Linked DNA regions of Homo sapiens: region 2 is linked to region 1. Evidence: fine-mapped QTL for protein levels in blood plasma. A gene starts in region 1. The other region holds a variant in brackets. All regions are shown on one strand. Distances are between the middles of the regions.

Region 1 (8,547 bases):
CCAGTCATGATCTGATGGAATAAATAATATATTGCATGCTTACTCAGAGCAGGGCTTGAGGCAAATACCAGGCATGCAGGTGTGGCAGGAGAATTTAGTGAAATAGAGAGTTTTGTTTTTTCTGCCTATGTTTTTCTTTTCACTATAGAGTAGGCAAGAGTTTTGGCAGGGCTGGGAGTGATGTCCTGATGTCAAAGGGAGCCTGACGTCAAAGGCCTTTTGTAAATGTCTTACACCAGGGGAAAATGCCGGGCATAGAGGCTCACACCTGTAATCCCAGCAACTTGGAGCCTGAGGCAGGAGGATCCCTTGAGCCCAGGAGTTTGAGGTTACAGTGAGCTATGATCCTACCTTTGCACTCCAGCCTGGACTACAAAGCAAGCCTTAAAAAAAAAAAAAAGTAAACTTGTAAACTTGGGGAAGAGGTTATGCCCTGGAGGGGCTGAGGAGAGGGAGACAATTGTTTAGGACTGCGAAGGGATTAGTGTGTACATCCAGCCAGAGTGGGCACTGGGCTCTAATTTCTGTCTGTGATGGGGCAAGTGACAGGACTGTTGAGTAGATGGCTTCGGGGGTATCTGGGGAGGTCAAGTCCAAGCCCAGAGGCTGTCATATCTGAATTCTTATGTCTCAAATGTGGAGTCTAGGACTTGAAGAGATATACCTGCTGGAACCACAGGGGTCAGAACACTCACTGGCGAGACTGATGTCCAATGATAGGATGGTGTAGGAGGCAGGTAGGAGGCCTCCCTTGGGCCTTGAGGTTTCTGTGACCTTTGCATAACCCTTGGCAGGTGGGATCCCACAAGAGTGCCTGATGTTGAATTTCTCATCAGCACTCTAGTGCAGTAGCTTGGAGTAGGAATTAAGTTCATTTAAGGAACATTTCAAAAGTAGTATTTCTTGCATATCTGAGTTTATAGATTAATTTCACACCTGCTGCCCTAGGACAGGCAGGGGAGAGGCCCTGTCTTCACCTGCTGCAAGAGGAGCAGACAAGCCAATACTTGAGGATGTTAGGATAGGTGGTAAGTGCTGTGGCATACTCAGGCTCCTACAGAAGGAAAAGTTGATGGAGCAGCCACTTCTAGCTTCTGAGGTTCCTACCTTTCTTCTTCTTCTTCTCCTCCTTTTTTTTTCTTTTCCTGAAATGGAGTCTTGCTCTTGTCGCCCAGACTGGAGTGCAATGGCACAATCGATCTCACCTCACTGCAACCTCCGCCTCCTGGGTTCAAGTGATTCTCCTTCCTCAGCCTCCCGAGTAGCTGGGATTACAGGCGCCCGCCACAATGCCCGGCTAATTTTTGTATTTTTAGTAGAGACGGGGTTTCACCATGTTGGCCAGGCTGGTCAGGAACTCCTGACCTCATGATCCGCCTGCCTTGGCCTCCCAAAGTGCTGGGATTACAGGCCTGAGCCACCGCGCCCGGCCTTGAGGTTCCTACCTTTCTTGCCCTTCCCCAGGATCTGTTCCCTTCTTTCTCACATTGTCTGGCCCAATCTGATGGCTTCTACTCTCCCCGCCTGGAGGTGATTTGGGGAATAGAAGGGTCTTCACTCTGGGGAGGAAGAGGTAGAGGAGAGCCATCTGAGGCCTTCCAGGAGAGGAGACTGATTCACACCTGAATCCTGGGGTTCTGAAAACCTGCCCCAGGAGACTTATTCCTTGACTTCAAAGGGTTAAATGGGCTAAAGTAGTCTGGATCCCAGCCAGGAAAGAAAGGAGGAAAAAAAAAGGGAGGAGGTTTTTCCATCTGGAAGGAGGCTGAGTGAGTCCAGGGGCCCAGATAGGAATAGAAGGAGAGCACAACAGCCCCATTAAACAAAGAGGAGAGGTCAAGGCCCGAGCTTCACTGAATAGGGCTGAAGCAAGTCCCCTCGGGTCTTTGCCTCCCAGGGGCTCTCTCAGGGCTGGAACTGTGCTAGGGCAGGTTTCAATATAACTTGTGTTTGTCTGTGTTATAGATGGGCCCAAGCCACAGCTTCCCTCCTAGGGACCCTTCCAAAGAACCACTTGGAGGGTCTCATTGAATAGTTCCCAGGGAAAAGAGAGGAAGCCTCTGGGATATCTGGGGAAAGGTCTGAAGGTCATGGAAAAGATCCGAAGGTCACCCCTGGAGTTAGTGCAGGACAGAATCAGGGTCTCAGAGGTCTGCAGAGCTGTTGGGGGTGTGTGCTCCATGTCCACCACCTCTCCATTGGCAGGATGCCTCAGAAGACTGGGTCCTACCCTGTCCTTCAGCCTCCCTTTAACTGCTCAGGGGTGCAGGCACCTGAGAGGCAAGGAAACTCTTGGGGTAGATGAGAACATAGCATTTTTCAGCCTGAGCTTTCGGCTCAGAGTGTGTGACCCCACCCTGTAGGAACCTTGGCATCTCGGTGGACATAAACACATGGGAACAGGTACTTGGGTGGGAAGACAGAACAGCTTTTTATTCAGTTAGGTATAAATCATATTTACAAGGAAGAGGTGGGGTGTACTGGGGAGCCGTATCAGGTCCAGGGTCCTGATGATTCTCCTTCAAGGGGACAGTCCTGCTGCCTCCTCTCATGCTCCCTGGGAGACTCTCCCTCCTCGGTCTCTCTGGACCTGGCCTGCTGTGGGCAGCTCAGCCATGCAGGGTAGAGCTGGGAATGCAGATGGGGTGGTTAAAGCAGGAGAAAGAGTGTGGCAAGGCCAGCATGGGGTGGCTGCTCCAGGGCCCCTGAGCATAGCCTCCTTCTTGCATCTTGGGTTCAGGCTTCAAGCGCTGGTGAGGCTGGTGGGGTCTCCAGGGCTCCAGGCTGCTCACTGGGCTATGGCCCTTTAGGGGTCTGTGACCGCTCAGTCCTGTGAGGGCAGAAGAGGGGTGTGAGGGGCTGACTGAGGCTCCCCTTTACCCACATCCCTCAGATTCCTCACCTCTTGCAGCCTTTGGAGCCCTTTCCTTTCTTGCCAGTCTTGGAGGCCCCCCTGTCCTTCCTGCAGCCCTGGGCTGGTTTCTGTGGGGATGGTGTCTTGTCCAGATGCTGCATCAGCTGCTGCACCCAGAGCTCCTTTGGGTCTGCACATAGCTCTGCCTGAGAGCGCTTGCGGGGCAAGAACCTGCGGGTGGGGGCTAGTAAGCCTTCTTAGTCTTGCCCACCATGCCCTCCCCACCCCGTCACCAGCCAGTACCCACCCCTTTGTGTCCACTCACAGGATAGCTGGGATGGAGCAGCCTAAGCTTGGTTCCTGCTTCCGGTAGCTGCGGACAACCTTGGCGGGAATCTTCCTTTGGCTGTACTTGAGGCAACAGTCCTGAGCCCCTCCATCACTGCCTGCAGGGTGGGATTCACAGGGAGCCAGGGGCTGCTGGCAAGCTCCTATCCAGGCCTCTTGATCCCCTTAGCCCCATGCAAGGCCCCTCCCTGCCTTGGTACCTTGGGTCCTGGGGATGCCAAAGGCCAGAACCAGGATAAGGAGGCTCAGAGCCAGTGACTGAGCCATGTCTGTGGTAGAGGGTGAGTAAGAGGCCAGAGCTGAGGGTGAGGTGGGCAGCTGCAAGTTGGGGGTCTGTGCGTGGGCTGGGATTGGCCTGCTATTTATGTAGCTAGACACTTTCACTTCCCTTAACTTATCCCCACTCCTTTTCCTTCCTGAAAGCTGGATTTGCTGGCACCCAGCCCCACTTATCTCAAACTAAGTGGACAGTCCTCAGCTGCCAAATTTTATGTCCTCATTAGTTGAATATGTCTGGGCCTGAGCCTTCCTTCTATTCCCAGCTACTGCTTTCATGCAGGCCTCACTGCCTCTCCCCTGGAACACCATGACTGTCTCCTCACTACGCTCCAGGATCCATACCCTTCCCCTCCTTCCAGCAAATCTGATTATTAAATTGTAAGAGTTCTTTTTTTTTTTTTTTTTTTTGAGACAGGGTCTAACTCTGTCACCCAGGCTGGAGTGCAGTGGTTGATCTTGGCTCACTGAAATCTCCGCCTCCTGGGCTCGAGTGATCCTCCTACCTCAACCTCCCCAGGAGCTGGGACTACAGGCAAGCACCACTGCGCCTGGCTGATTTTTCTATTTTTTTTTTGTAGAGACGAGGTTTCACGATGTCTAGCCCAGGCTAGTCTTGAGCTCCTGGGCTCAAATGATCTGCCTGCCTCAGCCTCTTGAGGAGCTGGGACCACAGGCACATGCCACTACGTCCGGCTACTGTTTTCATTTTTCATTTTTATTTTTTCTAGAGATGAGGTCTTGCTATGTTGCCCAGTCTGGTCTTGAACTCCTGGGCTCAAGCGATCCTCCTGCCTTGGCCACCCAAAGTGCTGGAATTATAGGTATGAGCGACTGCACCTGGTCTGTAGCATAACCATTTTGATTCCCCTTTGCTTTCCTTTTCTATATATTTTGTAGTTATTTTCCTAATGGATACCTTGGTGATTATAATTAACATTCTAAACTGATAACAACCTAGTTTGAATAATACCAACTTAGTTTCAATGGTATATAAACATTTTGCTCGTATACATTTTAGTCCCTTCTTTATATTGTTATTGTCACAGATTACATCTTTATACATTGTGTTCCCATTGACATAGATTTATAATTATTGTTTAATGCATTTTCCTTTTAAATTATATAGAAAAAAGTGGGGCTACAAACTAAAAATACAATACTAGCTTTTATCTTTTTTTTTTTTTTTGACACAGGGTCTCGCTTTGTCACCCAGGCTGGAGTGCGGTGGCACAATCTCAGCTCACAGCAGCCTCGACCTCCTGGGCTCAAGTGATCCTTCCACCTCAGTCTCCTGAGTAGTGGGGCCACCATGCCTGGCTAATTTTTGTATTTTTTGTAGACACGAGGTCTCACTATGTTGCCCAGGCTAGTCTCGAACGCCTGACCTCAAGCAATTCACCCGCCTTGGCCTCCCAAAGTAATGGGATTACAAGTGTGAACCAGCATACCTGGCAATGTTGTTACTTTTTTTTTTTTTTTTTTGAGACAGAGTCTCACTCTTTCGCCCAGGCTGGAGTGCAGTGGCGTGATCTTGGCTCACTGCAACCTCCACCCTCCGGGTTCAAGCCATTCTCCTGCCTCAGCCTCCCGAGTAACTGGGATTATGGGCACCTGTCACCACATCCAGCTAATTTTTCTATTTTTTGTAGAGATGGGGTTTCACCATGTTGGCCTGGTTGGTCTCAAACTCCTGACCTCAAATGATCCGCTCACCTTGGCCTCCCAAAGTGCTGGGATTACAGACATGAGCCACTGCGCCCAGCCTGCTATGTTGTTATGTTTATCAGAGATCTTTGTTTCTTTGTGTGGCTGTGAGTTATTATTTTTTGTCCTTTTGTTTCATTCTGAAGGTCTTCCTTTAGCATTTGTTTGTTTGTTTGTTTGTTTTTTCTTTCTCCCGTTAGCTTTTCTTGTGGGCAGGTCTACTATTAATGAACTTCCTAAGTTTTGTTTATCTGGAAATGTCTTATTTCTCCTTAATTCTTGCAGCATAGTTTTGCTGGATATATAGAATTCTTGTTTGACTTTTTTTTTTCTTCAGTCTTTAAATATATCCCCCATTGTCTTTTGGCCTCCCATGGTTTCTGAAATCAGCTGGTAATCTTATTGAGAATCTCTTGTACATAATGAGTTACTTCTCTCTTGCTGCTTTTAAAATCTTTGGGTTTCAACAATTTGACTATAATTTGTCTTGGTGTGGATCTCTGAGTTTATCCTTCTTAGAGTTTGTGAACTTCTTGGGTATGTATATTCATGCTTTTCATCAGATTTCAGATGTTTTGTCATTATTTCTTCAATTTTTTTAATGCCCTGTTCCCTCTCTTCTCCTCCTGAGACTCCTGTGATGAGGTACATTTGATGGTATCCCTGAGGCTCGTTTATTTTTCTTCTCATACTTGATAATTTTAATTGTCTTATCATCAAGAATACTGATCCTTTTTTTTCTGCTTAAATTAGTTGTTGATTGCCCCTAGTGAATTGTACATTTCAGTTATTGTATTTTTGCTTCCAGAATTTCTGCTTGAGTCCTTTTTTTCTTTTTACTAATTTCCATCTCTTTATTGATAGTTTCATTTTGTTCATACACCATTTTTCAGATTTCCCTTAACTCTTTGCCCATGGTTTCCTTCAGCTCTTTGAGCATATTTAAGACAGTTATTTTTTTTTTCCAAAAGGGCCATTGTTTCCCAATTTAATTTGAGGTCATAATAAAACAAGCAACAAAGCAGTATTTGAGATTTCAGCTTCTCACCCTTATCATCAAACCTCCCATCATCAATATTTATTGAGCATTTACAGTAAGACAGTTAAAGTCTTCATCTACTATGTCCAATATCTGGGCTTCCTCAGGGATAGTCTCTGTCAAATTCCTTTCTTCCTGTGAATGGGCCATACTTTCCTATTTCTTTGTATTAGTAATTTTTTGTTGATAACTGGGCATTCTGAATATTACAGTGTGGTATCTCTAGAAATTCAATTTTTTCACTCCTTAGGGATTGCTGATATACACTTGTTGAGAACTCTGCCATCAATTTGTGGTGACTTTTTCAAACGGTTTTTTGCAAAGTGTGTATTCTTTGTTTTGTGGGGTTACTGAAATTTCTGTTTATGACCTGACAAAGGGTTCTCTTCCTTCCCCGCAAAAAGATTCTGTCCCTTTAAATCTTCTGATATATGTGGCTCAGGAAGATCCTGAAGCCCAAGAGGGCTGAAACAAAGCAAGCCTGTCCCTTAGGGAACCAGAAGACAAACCCAAATGCAAAACCCCTCATTTTTGGAGGACAGGGTTCCCCCTGCCCACTCAGTGACCACCCAGCTACTTCAGGAATGTGGGCTGCTATCCCCACTGTGTTGGTTGGTAGCTAGTGCATGCATTATGCTCTCTTCTGAAAGACCAGCAACCTCTCCCTTCATCAAGTACCACCCCCCCTGCTTGTTATAAGTGTCCAATCGGGCTCCAGACTTCTGAAAGAGTCGATTCCAATTGCTCTTTCCACCTCAATAGTTGCTTTGGTGGAGGGACCAACCCCTATAACTTCTTACTCTGCCATTTTGTATGATGTTTTTCTGTAGTTTAATTTTTAACATTTTAAAATCTTTTATCCATTTGGAGTTTATTATGGTATATGATGTGTGAGGGTTATTGGGTCATAACTTAGAATCTATATTTAATACTGGATTGGGACCTTAGAGTTGTAATCCTCACGTCAGAGCTGGAGAATCCATCTGGTTTCCAGAGTGCTAAACTCAGCAGCAAGCTCCTTACATCTTGTTTTTTGAAGGATGGCTTATGACAGGATAGGGAAACCATAGGAAGAGGAGGAAATGAGTGTCAGGAGAGATGTAGTCAGGACAGCCATGGCCAGAGACAGAAATATTGGGTTGCTCTTGGGGAAGGATGGGATGCAGAAGGCATGGGGTTGAAGATGGAGGTACTGTTGGGAGGGGGATAAAGAGGTGGTGTTTCATTCTAAGGTCCACAGAGTAGAGGGGCTGGAATTTGGTGGCCTAGAGGAGAAATAATTGAGCTCTTGAGTCTGAGGTTTTCAGACTCAAGAGACCTTAAGGCTGAGACCTTAAGCAGGGCAGGGAGTGACTCTGTTGGCAAGAAGCTGGTGTTCCTGGAACAAGACTAGGCAAAAACAAGGAGATAAGATTTCTTGGATCTTTTACCTGGTCTAGAGGCAGATCCTGGAACCAGAAAGTTTTAAATTCCCAGCTCCCTGGTTTCCCCACCTGCCTAATGGGAGTGACTAAGAAAGTAGTGAGCAGCCTGTCTCTGAGGAATTCTCAGACAGATAGAATAGCATGGGCTTGGGAGGGGGCATGCAGATAATTCCGAAGTCATATTATATTAGTTTGCTTCCAAACTTGGCTGCACTTCAGAATCACCTGGGTGACTTTTTAAAAACAGAATTAGAAGCAACACGCCAGACCGCCTTAAATAGAATCTCAGAATAGAGCCAACAAATGTGTATTTTTACCAAGTTCTGCAGGTAATTCTAAGCATTTGGTGGGGTGGGGCTGGGAGAGCCACTTGGGCCTATTCTGCTCCCCATCCCACACTCTAGATTGACACAGAGCCGGTGAAAGGGAACAAAGTTGGTCTGGGGAAAGGAAAGCTGGAGTGATGCCCCCTCTACCTCCCCTGGAGGAGGAGACTTTCTCGCCTGGCACAGATTGTAGAAAAAAAGGAGAGATGGCAGGGAAGAGGAGGGGGCTGTACCTTTTTCTTTCCTAAAAGCTTAGGCTTGCTTTCTCTCCAAGATACCTGCCTGTCTCCCTTACCCTTATTCATGCCATGAAAGAAGCTTCTTGTTGTGTCAGATGGTGTGCACAACCCCCTAGGTCCCATCTCTGCCTGGTCTTCCTAGATGCAGGAATCTAGGTTGATTAGGCATCAACCCTAAGCCCCTGCCTGTGAACTTGAGCCTGCAGTGGTAGAGCAGTCTCAGGGAGATGTTACATCCTGGAGATATTGAGGTCTGTCTGCTTGGTGCTGGAGCTTAGAATCAAGGTTAGGAGCCCTAAGGGAAATGAAGGAAGCAGTAGGGGCTTTTCTGGAG
Region 2 (8,547 bases), 13 kb after region 1:
CCCCTGGCTTCCTACCTGATGCTGCTGTGACCCTCCTGAGTCAATTCCCTTCATTCTGGGCCTCCCTCTGTTCTAGCTGTGTGGCTGCCTGCCCCACTCCCACCAGGCAGGGAGGATGTGCCTGTCACAATACCTCCTTTGATCTTTGGGAATGCTTTAGGAAAACATCTGTTGAATGTTGGTTCAGCAGGTTTGGGCCTTGTGCCTCTCTGCCCTGGGGACCATGTATGGGCTGGGCCCCCATCCCTTAGGCACAGAATCAGCATTCAGAGCAGGGACATATCCATGTTTCTTCCCATCCTGCCTCTTCTGTATCCAAGCAGTGGACACATTGTGCTAAATGCTGGGGTCCCATCAGAGGAAGCAAGTCCTGCCACCTCCTCCTCCTAGTGATGAGATGGTGAGTGATCCTGGGTTTCCGTAGGAACCAGGGGCATCCCACTGTCCCTCAAAACATGTCATAAAGGGCCAGGCGCGGTGGCTCACGCCTGTAATCCCAGCGCTTTGGGAGGCCGAGGCGGGTGGATCATGAGGTCAGGAGATCGAGACCATCCTGGCTAACAAGGTGAAACCCCGTCTCTACTAAAAAATACAAAAAATTAGCTGGGTGCGGTGGCGGGCGCCTGTAGTCCCAGCTACTCGGGAGGCTGAGGCAGGAGAATGGCGTGAACCCGGGAAGCGGAGCTTGCAGTGAGCCGAGATTGCGCCACTGCAGCCCGCAGTCCGGCCTGGGCGACAGAGCGAGACTCCGTCTCAAAAAAAAAACAAAACAAAACAAAAAACATGTCATAAAGAAGTCACAGCACTTCCTGCCCTTTTTCCAGCTCTTGGCTCCTCTGTGGTAGGTCAGAAGGGGAATGCAGAGGTGCCACCTCCTGAGGGATAATAGCTGTCCAAAATCGATGTCCCTTCCATCTTCTCAGGGCAGCTTCTTTGTCTTCCTGCTTCCCAATCCTCTCATCCCACCCATATAACCTCCCTGGTCCCTCACCTCACTGAGCACTAGGATGCCATCTCTGCCCTGTTTCTCCATCTCCAGCCTCATGCTCTTGCGCAGTCTCCATGCATTTAGAGCTTTCTCTGTGAGCTCTCCTGCTGGTACAGTGTTCCAAGAGCACCTGCTGCACAGATATCAGCAGCAGCTTTGATCACCTTTTCACCCACCTATGTACTCACAACCAACTGCTTGGGACCTAACAGAAACTTTCCATGGTAACTTCCAGAATCTTTCTCCACCTCCAGCTTTCCCGCTTTGGTTCTCCATACGGTTCCCCCTTCCCACAGACACGGTCCCTTCCCAGGTCCTCACTCATCCCTCTGGGTCTTTGCCCACACTCCCTTATATGTGGAAGAATCCTTTCTTCTAATCCATGAAGTCCTCCCTCATTAACTCTACCTTCTCTCTACCACCAGTGAAGTTCTGTATTTTTAGCCAAAGCCAGACTGTCAACTTGGGGACTTGCTCCCATTCCTTCACTTCTGAACCACAACATTGTTCCAGCAGTTCTCCCCTTGAGCTCCTGCATCATTAATTTATCCATCTCCACTGGATGTTTTCCATTAACATCCACCATGCTATGTCTCCAGTCTTTTTTGAAAAGCCATTTTGGGTTCTAATGCCTCACATTTCTGTATCTTTATTTGAACAGACCTCTTTGAGGAGTTTATGTTACCCTTTCTAACACTAATTGCTGTCTTTCCATTCTCTCTCTCTCTCTCTCTCTCTCTCTCTCTCTCGATGGAGTTTTGCTCTTGTCGCCCAGGCTGGAATGCAATGGCACAGTCTGGGCTCACTGCAACCTCCACCTCCTGGGTTCAAGTGATTCTCCTCAGCCTCCTGAGTAGCTGGGATTACAGGTGCGCACCACCACGCCCAGATAATTTTTGTATTTTTACTAGAGACAGAGTTTCACCATGTTGGCCAGGCTGGTCTCGAACTCTTGACCTCAGGTGATCCACCTGCCTCGGCCTCCCAAAGTGCCAGGATTACAGGTGTGAGCCACTGTGCCCAGCCGTCCACTCTCTCTGGAATCCACTCCAGTCACACCTTCATCTCCATCATTCACCTGAGGCTGCTCCTGTTAAGGTCATCAATGATCTCTGTGTGGCTAAATCTAACACGCCTCATCTTAATTGGCTGACTGGCAACTTTTCATGCAGTTGATCTCTCCTTGAAAAACATTTTTGTTTGGCTTCTAGTATTCCACACTCATCTTGTTTTCCTTCCATCTCACTGGCCACTGCTTGTCAGTTTCCTCTGTTTACTAGTCCCTCCTTTACTTTCCAGTTTCTTAACATAGAAGAGTCTCAGGGCCTACTCCTTAGATGTCTCCATTTACACTTAGTTGTTTGGTGTGTTATCCAGTTGCATGGTTTTTTCTTTCTCACTCTCTCTGTATTATCTGAAGCCAGGACCCTCCCTGAGGACCATCAGGCTTCTGTGTTGAGGATAAACTGTTGGTTGAATAGTCTCAGGATGAAATGGGGAGATTAGTTATGATGCTACTGGAGTGATGGTAGCAGTAGAGAGGGTGAGAAGTGGGCATTTTCTCGATGCATGCTTGAAGGTAGAGAGAACAGGATTTACTGTGGGTTAGGAAAAAAATCAAGGATAACACCATTGTTTTTGTCCTAAATAACTGGAAAGATGGAGCTGCCATTCACTGAAGTGAGAAATATCATGAATACAGTGGGTTTGGTATGTGTGACTGAGTGGTGGTGAAGGGTAGAAAACCAGTTCGTTTATTTTTGTATGGTTTGAGATGAATATTGGACTTCTAAGTTTATAATTTGACTGGACAATTTGGGAGTAATAGACTGTCGACCCCATGGGATCATGAGCTCCACTGGGTCAAGGCCTGTGTCATGTTCATTGATGTGTTTTGCATAGTTCTTGGCACGTAATAAACACTCAGATATTTAATTGTTGAAAACAAGATGCTTCTCAAAGTAATTTTTATTATGGGTTCCTCCTCACCAGCTGATTGCTTCCTCCTGTGGCACTACCACACACCTCATAGCCCCATTAAAATGATCAATGCTTTGTCTGTCTCCACAGCCCTGACTTTGGATTCAACTAATGTAAGGTCTTACTATGCATTAGCCACTCTCCTAGGCCCTGGAGTTATGGGACAGTGGAAAATATTCTGGTGGGATGGATGGTAAATGTTCAGAAATCAAGCATGACCTTTAACTTCAGTGCACTCTAGATAAAAGCTTTTCTTCTTTGATGTGGAATGGTGACCCATCTGAAAGGTAAGTTAAAGCTCCTTCCCTAGACAGGAAGGACTTTTTAGCCTCCCTCACACCTTCCCTTAACACAATACAGCAGAGACAAGGAG[C/A]AGACAGACAATGTATTGCTGAGAAATATAGAGTGTATTTCTAGTGGCATCTGTCCCACCTGCACATTTATGGAAATGACAATACTGGTCCTCTGGAGGGCTGCAGCAGTTGGGGAGCCTATAAACTCTTTTTCATGGCTCTGCATGTTCTCCTTGAGCGGACCAATGTTTCTATCTGAGGTGAGGGTCAGGAGCTAGGTTGGGTGCCCTGGTTTGTTGGCACAAGCCTCTCGAGGACAGTGACGAGGGCAGTGGCGGGGGTAGCCCAGGGCTGAGGCAGAGCCAGGTTGTCTGGAGTGTAGCCGGAGCTTATCGTCTAGGGATTGGGGACCATCCAAGAAGGCTGGGCCCACCAGCTTCTGAGCAGGACGAGATTGGGCCTTGGAGCACCCTGTCGGCTTCTCCGTCTTACTTCTCCCCACAGGGCTCTTGGCTGGAGCCAGGCTCTTTGCAACATTTTCTTTTCTGGTTTTGGCCACCTTCGCAGCGGCTGAGAACATGGAGTCCTCATGCCCTTTGCCTTTTGTCTTGGGGTTAATATGCTGCAGAAAACATTTAATTTTATTTCTGAAGCTAGACTCTGTAAGGCTGGGCTTCTTTTGAGCATGGACTGGCATCACCAGCCCATGCAAAACTTGGCCTTGCAAAGTTTGGCCCTGCAAAGGCTTAGCCTGAGTTGGTTGGCTCAGGAAAGGCTGACCCTGTGAAGCCTGGGGCAACACAGTCTGGGCATTCTCAGGAATTGTCGCTGGTTCAAGGATGACAGTTAGCTTGGTTTGACTGTCTTGCAGGTCCTTCTCAGACTCTTTCTCCCCAGGGACTCGTGGAGGTAGCTGTGGGAGCTTAAGCTGAGGGTGATGCTGGGGGCTGTGTTGACAGGGATCAGCAAGATGAAAGCTACGGCTCCATCGCCAGGACCCTCGGGGTGTCTTGTTTGGAAGCATCCCTGCTGGCCTCTGGTCTTCAGCAGGGCGTCTCTCTTCTCTGGTTGAGGAGCGCCCAAACCCCGCATCCCCTTCTCTGTGGTCCCTGGCTGCTTTGGTTTCCTCTGGGTCCTCTCTGTTTCCTGCTAGCATGGGGACATGGGCTGGGTCCTTGCTCTTGCTAGGGCTTTGAGGCTCAGGGCCACAGGGTTCCTCCAGGCTGGGTTTGTTCACATTGGCCTCTACCTGAACACAAGGCATGTGGGCCTCTGTCATGTCCCCACTGGGCTGTGAGATCTTGGAGACCGAGTGGGCAGAACCCTGGGGTACAGCTTTGGAATTGGATTGCTTTTGGTTCTGCTGCACTGCCTTCAAGTCATTGGCCAGCTGTTCTTTAAGGTGAACCCCTTCTGGATTAGGGGCAGGAAGAGTGTCTGGTGGGATGGGCAGTTCCTGGAGCAATGTCTCCCCTTGGTGGTTTAGACTTTCAAGAGACTTCTGTGTGGATATGTTCTCTGGTGCTGCAACAGTTTGTTCCCTGGACTTCCTTGCCCTAATGGGAATTCCCCATTGTATCTCTAGGACCTTTTTTCTCAGGTGGAAGTTTAGTTTGGTCAAGATATGTGTCTGGAGTGAGTGGGGGCTAGTAGGATGCGTCTGGCTTTCTAGAGGCAGCGTCTCCATTGTTCCTTTTACTGGCACTGCAGGCTGGAACTCTTTTGCAACGTCTGTACAACTCTCATTGTTGCCTTGAGGGCATGGCCCAAGACTTATACACTGTTCTTCAAATGAAACCATCTGAATCAGAGGCTCTGCTGGGATTTCCACGGGACTAGGCTCCATCTCTGTGATGACAGATTGGCTAGTGACTGCCGGGGCCAGGGCCCTGGGGAGCGCCACATAATACAGAGCAGGCAGCCCCGACAGGAAGGCCAGATGCTTGTGCCGTAAAGTTGTCTCCAGTTTCTCAATGGCTTCCACAGACAAGACTCGGAGCAGCTTAGGGTGTTCAGTGACAGTACCTGGTAAAGCCTGTTGCTGCTGATCAAGGGCCGTTGGCATCCAGGGCATAACTTTGTGATGCAGGTCCGGGTCACTTGCTGTCTGCAGTTCCAGGAACTGGCTTTCTGGAATGCAGGGAAAAGGAGCCACTGCCAGGACCCCAGAAATTCTGCAGTCCCAGGACCTGTGTACACAGGCGGGGATCTTGCCCTGGTGGATTTGTCCACATTTGGAGTCGATGTGGCTCTGCAGTATTGCCTTGACCTGAGTTAACAAGTGTGGCCTGGGGATGGACACTGGGGCCGCAATGGGTGACAGCACATCGCAAGCCCCGTTGGCCTCTAGGGCTACAGGCTGGGGGATGCTCACGTTGGCTAGGGCTGTGCTGCTGCTGGACACAGTCTGCTGATCAGTGGAGGTAAGGAGCAACTGGATGGACTGCTGGATCTTCTGAGGCAGGCCCCAGCGATGGCGAATCAACTGTTTCTGGATGTGGAATTCCAGCAGCTTCCGGGCATGCTCCGGGAAGAAGAGTAGTTCCCTGGTGAGCACTGAGATGGACTTCCCTGTCTGGGAAGCTGTCGTGGTCTCAGGAGACTGAGCTTTGCCACAGGGCTCATGCTGCATGAGGCACTGGGTGTGCTGAGACCTCTGGAGGGCAGCTGGCCAGCCCCACTGAAGCTGGAGTTGCCTCTGTAGCAGGTGCCACTCCAAGGCTTCATACTCAGCCAGAGTCAGAAATGGGACATTGATCTGAGCTCGTTGATGGTCAGATGGAGACATCCAGTTTGGGGAAAGTGGGGAAGAGGGTGGGGCTGACTGGGGTGAAGTTTTAGGGAGCAGTTGGGGGAAGGAGAGCTCATTGAAGAGAAAAGGATCCTTCAAGGGGGGCTTGGGCACATTTTCAATCTTGGGGAGGCCTTGAGATCCCATGAAAGTGGCAACCAGGGACTCACTGTGCAGAGAAGGGAGCCCACAGAATAGCTGGCTGTATTTCTGCTGGAGATCACTCCCTGAGTCATTATCTTGTCCCCCAGACTGTGGATGGGGGCCACTTAGGGCTTTAAGGGCTGGAGAGGGCAAGGCTAGAGCCATAGGGTTTGGAGTTTGCTGACAGTGGTGTCTTTGTTCTGGGTTCATTGTGGACCATTCAGAAACCCAGAAGGTCTGGATGGGCTGGCCAGCCACACATGAACACCAGGTCTGGAGGGAAATGGTCTCAAATCTATGAAGAGAGACCTGAGGAGTATTCTTCAGGTTGAAAGAAACTGGCTGGTCATTTCCAGGTTGGTAATACAATGGTGGGTTTGGCATAAGCTGCCTCAGGGACTCCTCCACACGTCTTGGGAGCCCCCACCTCTGGAAATGCATCCATTTTTTAACATGTACCTCAAGAAGCCTCAGCACTTCAGGACTGAGAAATGGCAGGTGGGCAGGGAGGACCATATGCAAGGCCATTGGATGCATCCGGTTCAGGGTTTCTGGGTTCAGGGACAGCAAGGAGACCTGGGAATTCAAGTGATGCTGGCCTTGGTTTCCCTGGACAAGGCTGGGGTTGCTCTGCGTCATCTCCTCCTGGTTCAGTGGAGCCCTTGGCTTCTCAATCCTTGAAGAAGCTATGGTGTTTGGGCCCCGGAGCACATCTGGCACTTGAAATTCCTGCCCTAGCTGGAGGTGATCAGCCCAGTAATCTTGTATGCCATCTGCATACGTTGACTGGGCAGCTGACTGGGTTAAAGATTTCTGATCTGTTAATTGTGACAGTGTTGGGGTTACAGATGACAGTGAAAGCTCTCTGGTGTGCCAGGAATGAAACTCCAGACTCTGATCTAAAGACATACTAGACGTAGACAGCATCTCTAGGCAAGAGGAGCCCTGCAATGGCCCCGATAAAGTCAGGGAGATCTGGTTGTTCTCACCCACCAGCAATTGCTGAATCTCCAGAGCCACAGAATTGCAGATTTGGCAGCAGGGATCTGCACACAGGATTCGCCGCACACTTCTCTCCAGAGGAAGCCAGCCCTGGCTAGGAAGGGAAACACGGCAAAATTAACGATGGAGTGACATCTGCCTTCTTGGAAGAGTGTGGGCTGGAGTGGGCACTCTCCTTTCCCAGTCCTGAAAACCCTGGGGCCTATACCATCTTGTTGTCTACCTGTCTGCTTTCCTTGCTAAGAAAATGCCATTTGGCAAGGTGTGGTGGGCTGGGCTGATGGTCTGGAGCTTGTTGGGCAAGGCCTCAGACAACCCATGGGAGGGCATGGCCCTCAGAGAGGGCTGGGAGTTGGAGTCAGTTCTCTGTTGACCTTGTTGAAAAGCTGAACTAGGAGAATGGAGCTAGGCAGTTAGCTGATGGGGCATCACCAGGAACATCACCAGTTAGAACCCAGACCAGTCTTATTTGAGGCTAAGAAATCCAAAGCCTGTATTCAGTACTTCCAAGCTGTAGAAAATGAGGTCCTTGTGGGACTTCTGCATTCTGGGGTATTTGGTACCCGTAATGTTATACCCAGCATCTCTTCGGAACCAGTCCTGTTCTCTAGAGCTCTTAAGGAGAGGATAATATAATAGACTCCTGTCTAAGGAGTGTCCCAAGTACTGGCCTCACTGAAGACAGAACCGGAGGAGGTCATGTCAGCAGAGTCTAGCCAGAGTCAGGTATTTTCCCTTGAAAGGGTATAGCTTTATTCCCTTGAAAGAGTATAAAGAGAATAAGACAAGGATGACTTCTTTATTCAAAACCCATTCTCTTAACTGGGTAACTTATCTCATGGCTGAGTGCAGCTCCATGTAATATGTTTTATGAATTATACACTAGTAAAATCCTGAATTGTAGAACTGCTGTTACCCTAGCACAGAACTGAACTGGGCAGCTCATCTCTCCTGAGACATGTGAACCCCACTCTTCCCTGGCAACCCTCTCACCCAGTGTCCCTGCTTCCACTGTGTATGTCTCCCTCCCAGCCATTATCTTTCTCCTTAGTCCTGCCCCAGGCCAAGCCAAGAAATCATCATAGGCCAGGCTGGTTGTTGATAGAGTGCAAAGAGCAATAGATCACCTTTTAATGATGGAGAGCAGCTTCTGTGGCTTCTCAGCTTCTTCCCGGGAACGTCTCCTAGCTGAGGAACGGGGAGACAGTGTTATATGGCATGGGATAATTTCATAGGCATCCTATAGGAAGCTGAATAGTAAGGCCTTTGACTCTCATCAAGAAAAGACTACAATCCTGAAAAGTCCGTACTCTAAGGCATGTCTGAGTACAGCATCGCTGTAACACAAT

Direction of the effects. Alleles are on the strand shown, and positions count from the first base shown. The strength of an association depends on the size of the effect and on how common the allele is.
For the plasma level of the protein whose gene starts at base 3,539 in region 1, allele A in region 2 goes with a lower level than allele C (moderate association).

Evidence for each region. PIP is the posterior inclusion probability: the model's chance that the variant is causal. The UK Biobank Pharma Proteomics Project read protein levels with antibody pairs (Olink). The fine-mapping took linkage between variants from a reference panel, not from the people measured, so its PIPs are less certain.
Region 2: its variant is fine-mapped to the plasma level of the CCL21 protein (UK Biobank, PIP above 0.99).

Annotation. Positions count from the first base shown.
Region 1 is chr9:34,706,598-34,715,144 of GRCh38, forward strand. CCL21 (C-C motif chemokine ligand 21) reads right to left here and starts at 3,539. Exons shown (of 4, transcript NM_002989.4): 1 at 3,403-3,539; 2 at 3,180-3,300; 3 at 2,903-3,085; 4 at 2,408-2,830. The coding sequence starts at 3,469. The coding sequence ends at 2,797. It also overlaps a transcript of PHF24 not described here.
Region 2 is chr9:34,719,697-34,728,243 of GRCh38, forward strand. SPATA31F1 (SPATA31 subfamily F member 1) reads right to left here. Exons shown (of 4, transcript NM_001141917.2): 3 at 8,326-8,386; 4 at 3,357-7,292. The coding sequence ends at 3,536. It also overlaps a transcript of PHF24 not described here. Among named protein-coding and RNA genes, the nearest start is that of SPATA31F1, 5.5 kb to the right of the region's middle. The variant C/A (reference allele first, on the strand shown) is at 3,342.